4 linked regions of the Homo sapiens genome follow. The protein of the gene in region 4 interacts with the protein of the main gene of each other region in a pairwise test. Each region holds a gene or a part of one and is shown on either strand. Other genes may lie near its edges.

Evidence for each region. The genes of interacting proteins can lie anywhere in the genome.
Region 1: the proteins of SSX2IP (region 4) and DRG1 interact in binary tests that used the Homo sapiens proteins (3 or more experiments, as listed by UniProt).
Region 2: the proteins of SSX2IP (region 4) and ZNF202 interact in binary tests that used the Homo sapiens proteins (3 or more experiments, as listed by UniProt).
Region 3: the proteins of SSX2IP (region 4) and ZSCAN12 interact in binary tests that used the Homo sapiens proteins (3 or more experiments, as listed by UniProt).

Annotation. Positions count from the first base shown.
Region 1 is NC_000022.11:31,430,604-31,432,777, forward strand, and holds part of DRG1 (developmentally-regulated GTP-binding protein 1), read left to right. Parts: intron 1-2,174. UniProt on the Homo sapiens protein: Catalyzes the conversion of GTP to GDP through hydrolysis of the gamma-phosphate bond in GTP. Appears to have an intrinsic GTPase activity that is stimulated by ZC3H15/DFRP1 binding likely by increasing the affinity for the potassium ions.
Region 2 is NC_000011.10:123,735,161-123,738,660, forward strand, and holds part of ZNF202 (zinc finger protein 202), read right to left. Parts: intron 1-3,500. UniProt on the Homo sapiens protein: Transcriptional repressor that binds to elements found predominantly in genes that participate in lipid metabolism.
Region 3 is NC_000006.12:28,393,248-28,396,747, forward strand, and holds part of ZSCAN12 (zinc finger and SCAN domain-containing protein 12), read right to left. Parts: intron 1-3,500. UniProt on the Homo sapiens protein: May be involved in transcriptional regulation.
Region 4 is NC_000001.11:84,680,462-84,683,961, forward strand, and holds part of SSX2IP (afadin- and alpha-actinin-binding protein), read right to left. Parts: intron 2,007-3,500; exon of another isoform or gene 1,737-2,006; intron 1,524-1,736; exon of another isoform or gene 1,367-1,523; intron 1-1,366. UniProt on the Homo sapiens protein: Belongs to an adhesion system, which plays a role in the organization of homotypic, interneuronal and heterotypic cell-cell adherens junctions (AJs).

The DNA.
Region 1 (2,174 bases), on a different chromosome or scaffold from region 4:
TTAGCCAGGATGGTCTTGATCTCCTGACCTCGTGATCCGCCCGCCTCGGCCTCTCAAAGTGCTGGGATTACAGGCGTGAGCCATCATGCCCGGCCACTACAGGGTTCATTTTAGCCTTCCCACTTAGTATTATTTTTGAGACAGGTTCTCTGTCTCCCAGGCTGGAGTGCGGTGGCTCTGTCACAGCTCACTGCAGTCTCGACTTCCCAGGCTCAAGCGATCCTCCTACCTCAGTTTCTGAATAGCTGAGACCATAAGTGTATGCCACCATGCCCAGCAAATTTTTTTTTTATTTGTAGAGACAGGGTCTCCCTATGTTGCCCTGGCTGGTCTCGAACTCCTGGGTTCAAGCGATTCTCCTGCTTTGGCTTCCCAAAGTGCTGGGATTACAGACACTAGCCACTGCACCCGGCCTTCCCCCCCCCCCCCCGCTTTTTTTTTTTTTTTTTTGAGACGGAGTCTTGCTCTGTTGCCCAGGCTGAGTGCAGTGGTGCGATCTCGGCTCACTGCAAGCTCCGCCTCCCGGGTTCATGCCATTCTCCTGCCTCAGCCTCCCGAGTAGCTGGAACTACAGGTGCCTGCCACCATGCCTGGCTAATTTTTTGTATTTTTAGTAGAGACGGGGTTTCACCATGTTAGCCAGGATGGTCTCGATCTCCTGACCTCGTGATCTGTCCACCTCGGCCCCCCAAAGTGTTGGGATTACAGGCGTGAGCCACTGTGCCCGCCGCACTTTTTTTTCTGAATAGGAAAAAGGGTTAAAAACAAAAGAAGAAAATAGGGCTAGGTGTGGTAGCTCACGCCTGTAATCTCAGCACTTTGTGGCCAAGGCAGGAGGACTGCTTGAGTCCAGGAGTGTGAGATCAGACTAGGCAATATAGTGAGACCCCGTTTTTATCAAAAATAAAAAAATTAGCCAGACATGGTACCAGGCACCTGTGGTCCCAGCTACTCAGGAGGCAGAGGTAGGATTGCTTGAGCCCAGGAGGTTGACATTGCAGCGAGCCAAGATAATGATCATGCCCCCTGTACTCTAGCCTGGGCAGCGGACTGAGACCCTTCCTCAAAAAACCAACCAAAGAAAGAAAAAACTTGTTTCTGATCCTAAGAGTACTGAGAGAGTGAAGTCCTTTATTGACCTTCAGATCCTTACATATAAAACAACTATATTCCACATGTAAGTGCTAATTTCCACCACAGTCAAAACATTATGCTTTGGCAGTTACTTTAACTGGTAAAGATGACTTTTGTAAAAAGTTAAACACTGTCCTTTTTCAAACTTTGTAGATTTATATATAGCTCTTTCCTTCTATGGTGGCAAAACATTGTTCAAAACCTTCAGAACTTTAAATTTACCAGGGAATTAAAAAGGGGAGAAAAATGTCTCAGATAAGAAACATATCGAAGCAAACAGGATTTTATTTGCTCTTATTTTACTGTTTTTTTTTTTTTCTTTAATTATTGCACAACTATCTTTTTGGTTTTTTTGAGATAGGGTCTTGTTCTGTTGCCGCCCAGGCTGGAGTCCAGTGGCGTAATCGTGGTTCACTGCAGCCTTGAACTCCTGGGCTCAAGCGATCCTCCCACCTTAGCCTTTTAAATAGCTGGGACTACAGGTGCAAACCACCATGCCTGGCTAATTTTTTCTATTTTTCTAGAGCTAGGGTTTCTCCATGCTGCCCAGACTGGTACAACTCTCTTAATAATAGAAAACTTTCATCTTCAGGCCTAATTAATTATAACATTTATCCCTTTTCCATTTCCTTCATGTCCTTGACCACACTGATCCCTTACTCTGTGCTTTGTGTTTTTTGTGTGTGTGTGTGTTTTTTTTTTTTTTGAGACTGAGAGAGACTCAGTCGCCCAGGCTGGAGTGCAGTGGCGCGATCTTGGCTCACTGCAACCTCCGCCTCCCAGGTTCAAGCGATTCTCCTGCCTCAGCCTCCCAAGTAGCTGGGACTATAGGTGCGCGCTACCACGCCCAGCTAATTTTTTTGTATTTTTAGTAGAGATGGGGTTTCACCATGTTGGCCAGGATGGTCTCGATCTCTTGACCTCATGATCCGCCCGCCTGGGCCTCCCAAATGCTGGAATTACAGGTGTGAGCCACCACGCCTGGCCTAATTTTTGTATTTTTAGTAGAGACAGGGTTTCACCATATTAGCCATGCTGGT
Region 2 (3,500 bases), on a different chromosome or scaffold from region 4:
AGAATTAATACATAGGGTCTTTTGGCTTAATAAAAGGACTTCTAGTATCTTAAAAGTTTGAGAACCGACGTCCAGTGAAGTAGACTTGGAATCCTCATTGTTTTCACGCAGCACTAGGTACAAGAGATTCCACAGTATGGATCCTACAACGTATGCATTGACAGAAGAGTTCCTGCTCTCTCAAAGGGCTTTGCTCTCCAAAGAAAAAAGAACATGTAACAGTGCCACACCAAACTTGCCATTTAAAAATGCCCTTCAGAAATCACAAGCTGAGATTTCTGGTGCTTGTTTTGCATTTACTTTGGCAGCCTAGGAAGATGAAGGAAAACAGATCAGCAATAGAAGGAATGAAGGAAGGAGTCTTTGTGGGGTAAGAGATGGGAAATGAATAGGAGGTACAGCAGTGCTGTGCACAGCACCAAACTGGGTATCCAAAGACATATGCCCCGGCCCCAGATCCCCAAGAAACTGGAGCTTCCCTGAGGGTTTCGTGAAGTAACGTACCCAAGAGCCCTTGTAAAGGATAAAGCCCTCTGCAGATAACCAGTCTCCTAACTCAGTGATTATCTGAGATATGAGAGCTTTATGAACTAAAATGTGTTGTGCAAATGTCAAGATTTAATATTAGAGGCAGAAAACAGATGTTGTGTTTTTATTCTATAATTAATGGGATGTGCTATGCCATAAGTATACCTTGCAATTTGTTGCCTTTGCTATTCTAATACCTTTCTTCAATGTCTGTCCTTGGAAGAGTTCCAGAGTAAGACAAAAACTATAGAGAGAATACAATAGAGAGAATATGAAACCAGGCCAGGATTAAGTAAGAGACTTGGTTCCAGAAGACACTAAAACAGTATCTGCAAAGATACAACCTAGTGTCTTGAGTGTTCCTAGGATGCATAGGATTGGAGAGGAGCTATCAAGGTAAGACCTCTGTACAATCCTCAGGCCAGCTGTCTCTGCCCCTTATCTGAAGGTGTCACGTGGCAGTGAAGACCCAAGCTCAATTCTCTTACAAGAACAGAAAACCACAGGCAATGAAACAATATCTAGTTCTCTACCTTAAAACGCTACTAGCTAGGGTGATCTTTCTGGACCCTAAATGACAAAGTCTGTAGTCATATACCATCAACCTAAAGGAGAGACAGTGATCTGCCTATGTACTGGCAAATAATCTTCAGAAGAAAATAGTGATTAGAACTGAAATTATTATATTTAGCAGATATTTATATCCCTTCCAGTCCCCATTCTTATTTTATACCTTAATGCAGGCCTATAGTTTGGTAATTTTAATACAACTACTTGCTGGGGCTAACCAGGGCCTGTCAACAGCTCCTCTCAGTGTTCTAGAATAGAAATTGGCTAATAAAAACTGTTAACCGCTCTTTTCCAATGCTGCTGCTGTTCTTTAAAACGAAAGATTAGCCCAGTACAATCCTTCTAATGGACATATTCTTTTATTCTTGATTGTCCTATATACAAGCGCTTACCTAAGCTTTCCACATAATGGTTAGTGGCCTTGGCACGCTGGGTTTGAATCCCTGACCTCGAATCCCTGACCTCGCTTATTAGCCTTGTAACACAATTTCCCTAAGCCTCAGTCTTATCCTCAAAAATGTGGCTAATACTACTTATCTCATGTGGTTGTTTTAAGGAGTAAATGAAATAACCTATAGAAACCCTTCAGTATAGAGTCTGGCATAGGGTAGGTGCTCAATATATTTTATTCATTTTCCTTCAAGCTATTTGAAATCGTTTTGGGAAGAAGGCAAGATTTAAATGATAAACAAGCAAACAGTTCTCTATTGCATCATAATTACAAAAAAACAGATGGCATAAGGAAAATCTTGGTCGGTCTATTGTTATATCAAAGAAACCATGCTAAACCAAAAAAAAAATCCTTGCTTTGGAGGCACTTATGAAGTAGGATTAAATGAAAGTGTTGGAATACAGATGAGAAGGAACCTTAGACACAGGTTCTCCCACCGAAGACCATATCAGCAATGCTTCTAATTACCAATATATCAAAGTCCTCTCCACTCCCTGTAACTGGCAGGAGACAATCTGAGGCAAACTCAGTGTACCAAGAAGTCCTGTGAAAACTTAACCTAGACAGCACAATGAATGAAAGGGAATGAATTCCCTGGCTTTTGGCCTTCTAACACGTGACCAGTATGCTTCAAAACATGTTTAAAACTGTTTCTGTAAAATATTTTTGCCACCTAAGTTTCCCCCCCGCCCCTTCATAAAAGTGATATTTGAGTAGTGAGGGGAGAAATGGCTCAAAATTTGTTACAAGAGGTTCCAAAGAAAGACAATAAGGTATAGAGAAAGGGAAGACAGGAAGAAAGAGAAAGAGGTCAAGTATGTAGTGGATAGTACAGGGAAGTCACAAGTATCTTCTGTCTGGAAATGCTGCAGATTTTGTGGTTAGCCTCAAGATATTAGGTGGGAATAAACATGTCATTGAGAGTAAATGTAAACACAAAAATGAAAAATAAAAATTGTAACAATTCACTTTATTCTAAACTGTTTTTGATGGTTATATATGGCAGGCCTAGGAGGCAATGTTAGACAGTAGATAGTTGCCTTCGGCGGAGGGTGACCTGTGTTCTGTCCACTGCTCTACATTGTAAAGAGGTGTCATCTTGGACAAGTCACGGCAGCTCATGTTGAGTCTTGGGATGATTCTTTATCTAAAGGTAGAGAACTGAACCAGCTTTTTGATGGTGATGAGGAGGGGTTTTGAGAGGAACAAGGATATACAGCATCTCTATTGAATATTTGGGCCATAATGTAACAGCCTAGGATGCTGAGATTTACTCAAGAGCTGAGGACGGCTAGGGGCCAAACACAGATTTTTAAGTTTTGAGATAGGGTTTACTCTGTTGCTAAGACTGGAGTGCAGTGGCAAGATCACAACTCACTGCAATCTCTGCCTCCCAGGTTCAGGCCATCCTCCCACCCCAGCCTCCTAAGTATCTGGGACTACAGCACATGCCACCATGCCCAGCTAATGTTTAAATTTTTTATAGAGAAGGGGTCTTGCCATGTTGCCCAGGCTGGTCTCAAATACCTGGGCTCAAGTGATCTGCCAGCTTTGGCCTCCCAAAGTGTTAGGATTACAGGTGTGAGCCACTGCACCCAGCCTCAAATACAGATTTTTAAGAGGCCAGATTTATACACCTGGCCATCATGGTCATGTTGGTTAACCTCCATCATGAAGCTAGGCTTTTTAACCTTCAGGAAAACTACCCCAGAGCAGTTAATGGCCTAAATAAAGGAGGTCAAGCTATATGTCTCAGTTTAAAACAGAACATGACAAATTAACCTGAAGCAGGAAAAGGAGGGGACATCAAACCTGACACCCATCCTGATAAGAGTAACTGCTCTCATTTGACAGCCAGAGTTAAACTAGATGTATGCAATCTCTACAACAAACATAGTCAATGCCAATCAGATAGTCAGAGGAACCATCATTTAATGGGAAATAACGCAAT
Region 3 (3,500 bases), on a different chromosome or scaffold from region 4:
GTTGTTACCGCTAAAGTATGTTGGTTGTGCCACTGTTACCTCTTTATCTTATGCTTAAAGAAGTGGAGAAAGGAAAGGGAGAAAGACAAAACAAAGGAGAGAAGAAAAAGGTGAAAAGAGGCAGAAAGGAGGAAATAAGATAGAACTTAGGGTAAAATAAAACATTAAGAGAGAAAGAGGAAAAGGAAAGGGGATATGTAAAGGTAAATAATGTAGAGAAATGATAAAAAAAAAAAAAAAAAGGCACCCTTGGGATGCCATGGTGGGAGGATTGCTTGAGGCCAGGAGTTTGAGACCAGCCTAGGCAATATAGCAAGACCCCATCTCTCCAAAAAAATTAAAAATGATCTGGGCATGGTGGTGCACATCTGTAGTCCTAACTACTCAGGGGACTAAGGCAGGAGGACTGCTTGAGCCCAGTTCAAGGTTATAGTGAACTATGATTACACTACTGAACTCCAGCCTGGGTGACAGAGACACTGTAGCTCCAAAAAAAAAAAAAAAAAAGGTTGAAGGGAACAAATGAGGAGAAAGAAAGGGAAAAGAAGGGAAGGAGAGAAATCTCTTCCATATTCATTCCCTAAGCTGTTCCCAATAGTCTCTGCTCTTCTGAGGTGCCCGTCCCACTTCTCTCTGGGAAGATTATCTTATTTTCTATTTATCCAAGATCACAATCATCTCAAAAATCATCTACTCTTCATTTTATCTATCTCCACCCTCATACTCCTCTCCATTTCTTCTATCTTAGGATGATGTCTTCTCTTTTTCAAGGCTTACGTCTCTACTTTTGCCTTCAATCCCATCACTTTTGGCTTCTCTCTGACCCTTGCTCCCTCAGTTAACTCATTTATTCAATTTCAGCCACTGGGTGGCTCCCATTCTTCCATGGGCTTATTTCCTCTTGCATTTAAAAATAACAGGTTTCTTCAGCAAGGTATTGTAAAAAGCAGGGATTTGGAATCACATGGATTACTTACTCTCTCTCTTAGTCTAGTAGCTCTGTGACCTTGGGCTAGTTACTTACTCTCTCTGAGATTATAAATAACATTTGTATAAACCACCTTGCACAGGGATTGGCATACAACAGGTTCTCAAATTACTCCCCCATTCTCTTCAAAGGTTAAATTTTATAACTAAGAAATCACCATATACTGCCTCTATTTCCCTGATACATTTTCATTTTGTAGCCTCAGTCTTCAGAATAAAAGCGAGAGTCAGCAAAATGCTATCTCAGATGTATAGAAAACGGTGTTTTGATATCTCATATTTTGAAAAAAGAAAGCCGGGGGAAAAGGCCAGTACTGCGAGCTGTGCCTTCTATTCTGGGATCTCTGGTCAGGCCTCAGAAATCAAGCTGTAAACTCCATTATATGCCCCTGCAGTGCTTTCAGAGAAAGAACTGGTTGGCAATACAAATTCAGCACATTTAAAACCAAATTACTTTTGTCTGCATCTAAGAATCCCATTCTTTGTACCTCCCTAGCTACTCTGTTTCTACTGCTCATTACTCCCTTCATGATCTCATCCTATCTCGTGGCTTTAAATACTATGCGTATTCTGAAAAGCCCCAATTCTGTAGTTCTAGCACAGACCCTTCCACTGAATTCCAGTTTATTATATCTAGTTGTTTGCTCAACTTTTCTGCTTGGATTCTAATAGGAATCTCAAAATTAACATGTCCAAACCCTGTTTTTTTTGTTTTTTTGAGGCAGAGTCTCACTCTGTCGTCCAGGCTGGAGTGCAGTGGCAAGATCTTGGTTCACTGCAACTTCCGACTCCTGGGTTCAAGCGATTCTCCTGCCTCAGCCTCCTGAGTAGCTGGGATTATAGGTGCCTGCCACCACACCCAGCTAATTTTTGTATTTTTAGTAGAGACAGGCTTTCATCATGTTGGCCAGGCTGGTCTTGAACTCCTGACCTCAGGTGATCTGCCCACATTGGCCTCCCAAAGTGCTAGGATTGCAGGCTTGAGCCACCGTGCCTGGCCCAAACCCTAAGTTTTGATTCCTGTCTTTCCACCCCAAACCCACTTCTCTCCCAGTCTTTACCATCTCTATGAATGACAAATCCACTCTATCTGATGTTCAGACCAAATACTTCGGCATAATCCTTAACTTACTTTCTCTCATATTCCACATTCTATATAAAAACAAACCCTGTCAAGCTCTAGCTCCAAAATATATCCAGAATCCAATCACATTTTACCACTCCCACTGCTACTATTCTAGTCCAAGTCACCAATATCTCTTGCCTGGATTATTGCTTATTATTATTGCTCCTAAAATGGTTTCGTTGCCTCTACCTTTTACTCCTATGGCTACCCCAGCCCCATTGTGGAACTTTCTCACAGTAGCCAGAGTGACTATTTTAAAATTCAAGTCAGATTATATCTCGCTTCTGTTCAAAATTCTCCAATGACTTTCCATCTCAGAATACAATTCGAAATTCTTATAATGGCCTACAAGTTCTGACATAATATAATCTTATAAGCATTTTATTTCATCTCCTCCTTGACAACCACATCTCCACCATGATAAGTACATTCTCACTTTAAGACCCTCTGCCTGAATGCTGTTATCCCTGATAGCTTATGGCTTGCTCTTTTCATTCAGATTTCTCCTGTAAATGTCACCTATCTGAAAAACCTTCTCTGACAAGTCTACAGAAAACAGCACAATCCCCACTTATTTCACTATTCCTTTTCTCTGCTTTTATTGTTGTTGTTGTTTGAACAGAATTTATTACCACCTACATCTTGTAGGTGTTTGTTGATTTTTTTTTTTTTTTTTGGAGATAGGGTCTCACTGTGTCGCCCAGGCTGGAGTGCAGTGGTATGATCGTGGTTCACTGCAGCCTCGATCTCCTGGGCTCAAGCAATCCTCCCACTTTAGCCTCTCAAGTAGCTAGGACTACACACACCTGCCTGGCTAATTTTTGTATTTTTTATAGAGATGGGGGTCTCACTATGTTGCCCAGGCTGGTTTGTTGATTTTTAATTTACTATCTGTCTCAGTGGACCAGAACCTACATGAGAGCAGCAACCCCTGTGTTTTGTTCGCTGTTGCATTCACAGTGCCTAAAACAGTACCTAGTCCAAACAGACATTCGGTAAATATGTGCTTAATTGTTTCCTGCAGTCTTTAACTTTGTTAGGAGTGTCTCCATTATACTAGTCTTTCAAGCTTAAAATCCCTAGTGTTTAGCTTAGAATACATTGCTCTGTAAAGAGTTCTCCATTGGTTCTTCCTTCTTTATTTAATAGAGCTAATCTGTCATCACTTCCAAACAGTTCTTACCTAAGACATGCCTCATCCTTGGTAATCACACTTTCACGATCCTATTTCTTTTTTCTGTTTGTTTGTTTGTTTTGTTTTTTAAACGGAGTCTCACTCTGTTGCCCAGGCTGGGGTACAGTGGCACAATCTCGGCTCACTGCAACCTCTGCCTCCTAGGTTCAAGTGATTCTCCTGCTTCAGCCTACCAAGTACCTGGGATTACAG
Region 4 (3,500 bases):
TTTAATAATTTTATTAAATAAACTTATGCATGTAGAGGGCTTAAAAAAAGGTCATGGGTACATGGTAAGTGCTCAATAAATGCTAGCTATTATTAGCTATTTTACTCTTGGAAAGACTTCCATGATATTTTGTTAAGTAATGTAAAAAAGTTACAAAACCATATCTAATATGAGCTTATTTAGTCCTCAGGAAAAAAAAACAAATATCAGTAGATATGTACAGGCATAAATTCTGCTCTATAAACACAAAAGTTGGTATAAGGACAGAAAAAATTGCAAGGAAAAACCAACTTAAAAAATAGGGAAAAGGCAAGGGCAGGACTTTCATTCCTTTCTTTATGTACTTTCATGCACAAAAATATAACTTTTATTTTATTGTGTCTTCCAAATTTTCTATAAATGAAAGTGTTTTTCATATTAAGAAAAAAAATTTATGTTTTTAAAAGGCAATTATGGTGATGATAAGCACAGGAAATGGGGATAAACAGCACCATTCTGAACCACCAAAACCAATGGTAGAATGGCATGAGTGATAAAAAATGCATAAAATAAAACAGCAAGCAGTCTTGTTGGGCAAAAACTGGTTAGAAAATTATACAAATGTCCTACAGTTTTTTAAGATAGTCAATTATGTAAGGGAAATAGCACTTTACCAGAGATCAGTAGTTTGTTGTTTTAAAGGGCAATTCCAACAGTATACAAATATTTGAAATGTGTAAATCTTTCCACTAAACAATCATACTTCTAGGCATATAAGAGAGCAAGCATAATATATATTGAGGACATTGTTGAATTGCAGTATTATTTGAAATGGCAAAAAACTAGAGACAATCTTAATATCCATCATGGACAAACTGTTAAAAACCAACACATATGGTACAGCCAGGCTATTCTGGGATTATTAAAGATTAAAGCACATATGCATGTATAGCACAAAAAAAGAAGTTACAGGTTAATTAGAACAGTATGATCACCATTTTTTGTTAACTCAAACTACCTATATATATTTAGGGGAAAGTTCTGGAAAAGTTACAAAATGTCACAAATGACACTTCTTGGGATGGAATAATTTGGGTACAGGGAGGGGTAGAAGAGCAGGGCTTTCACCTCTTCCATAGCATATCTTTATATAGCTTGAATGTTATAGGAGCATGTATTATTCTGTAAAATTTTTAGCAGCAGAGTATTCAAGCACAATTAAATGAGATAATGTGTGAAAGTACTCTTAGCTCAATCCCAAAAAGTAGCAGCCCTGTCCTTGAGTGGAAATCTCGACTTAGACAAATCCCACCAATCAGGTACACTTCTAGCACCTGTTCCACATATGTACGCATACCCATGAGCAAGGGTAATGCAGTCTTCATACCTGAGGGAATGTCTGTGGGAATCTGGCCCATCAGGAAGACAGGGAACAGAAATACAGAGGCCAGACTTTTCCCCAACTATCATCAAGGGCAAAGCCATGGAGTACTGGCAGACCTGGCAAAAGTGGACTCTCCCCCTGGCTTAATGAACAATCCAACCTTGGTAGGAGGAAAGAGGGAAATTGACTTTATTAACACCCTCTTCAAAAACAAATGCTCTTCATCTTTCAACCTTCAATGAATGAAATTACTAAGAAGGTGCATTTCCGCTTCAAGAGAGCAGCTCACAAAGTTAAATACGGTAGGGACTTAATCTATGTACACCATCTGATATTCCATTATATACTGACTTTTTATTGCTAATGTTTTCACCTGTTTTGGACTTGGCTGCCAATTAAACTGTTAGTTTTCCAGGGCGCTGTCACTTCAGGGAAGCTGCACAGGGTACTGAGAGAGCGCTGGACTGAGTAGCATCAGAGGCCATGGTTCTCAGCAACACTTCTGTTATGTACTGAGAAACCTTGAACCGGTCATAATTTCTTTGGGTTTCAATTATGAAGTCAAACTAGATGACCTTTAAAGAATTTCAAGTTCTATTATCTTTTGATTTTTACATTTCTCATAGGACCCAATATGGAACTGAGTACAGCTATTTATATCAAAATTATTTTGTCTTCACTTTTTTTTTTTTTTTTGAGACGGAGTCTTGCTCTGTTGCCCAGGCTGGAGTGCAGTGGGGTGTGATCTCAGCTCACTGCAACCTCTGCTTCCTGGGTTCAAGCAATTCTCCTGCCTTGACCTCCCGAGTAGCTGGGACTACAGGCGCATGCCACCGCACCTGCTAATTTTTGTATTTTTAGTAGAGATGGGGTTTCACCATGTTGGCCAGACTGGTCTCGAATTCCTGACCTCGTGATCCTCCCACCTTGGCCTCCAAAATGCTGGGATTACAGGTGTGAGCCATCACGCACTGCCTTTTCTTCACATTTTTATAACAATGTGCACACATTGTCTTTACAACCCAATGTTTAGCAAATGAGATTCTACCTAATTTTAATAACAATAAAATAATTTATTAAGCATGTAGCAATTACTTGGAACAATTCTAAGCATTTTATGTGTACGAACTTATTCAATCTTACAATGATCCAAATACTTTCCCCCATTACAGATAAGGAAACTGAAGCCTGGAGTTTTCTTGACCTAGGATACAGAGCTGGAACATGACAAAGCCAAAATTCAAACCCTGGTAGTCTAGCACATTTAACATTACACCCTACTATCTTTAGTACAGGAGAGGGGGAAGGATACAATATTCAAGCTGCTTTTTTTTTTTTTAAGTTTTGGGATACATGTGCAGAACGTGCAGGTTTGCTGCACCTATCAATCCGTCATCTAGGTTTTAAGCCCCGCATGCATTAGTTATTTGTCCTAATGCTCTTCCTCCCCTCAAGCTGCTTTTTCAAACCGAACAAGTATTCTCTTCTTTACCACCTCACCTGAAACTAAATTATAATCAAATAATTATGCCAATTGAATAACTGGAATGGGAACTACACAAAAGCAGACAAAATATTAAATTCTGGATGTAGCAATTCAAAAAAATTTTGAAAAACCTAGCAAATATATTGCCAGGCTTTCCCTGCACTGCCATCCCTTCTCTCTGTGCTTCTAGAACACTTAACATGAACTGTATTACAGCACAGATCTAACAGGAATAAAATTTCTCTCCCACCACAACTGAGTTCTCATTTGGCAGGCTTGTCAGCATATTCTTTGTACCCCACTTCGGTAACAGGCATCATCACTCACTCCAAGGTTGGAGCCCAGTCAAGATTGCTGAATGAATGTCCAAGTTCAAGGATGTATTAGTGTAAGGTTTGCTGCTGTTTTAGTATGATAGACAAGTCAACACTTTGGCCATGCTGCAATTTGGAAGGGCTTTCAACGTAATCTTGATTGGTAACAGCTCAGAGAAGGAGAAAGGTGATTCAGGGTATGAATCAAGAGCATGGCAATTTACAAACAGTGTATCAGTTTCAAATTCTTCCAATGTACACACAGGAATAGCAGCAATCATATTCTTAGAAGATTATTAAGAAACAAGAAAAAAAAGAGGCACTTTTAGAAGTCTAT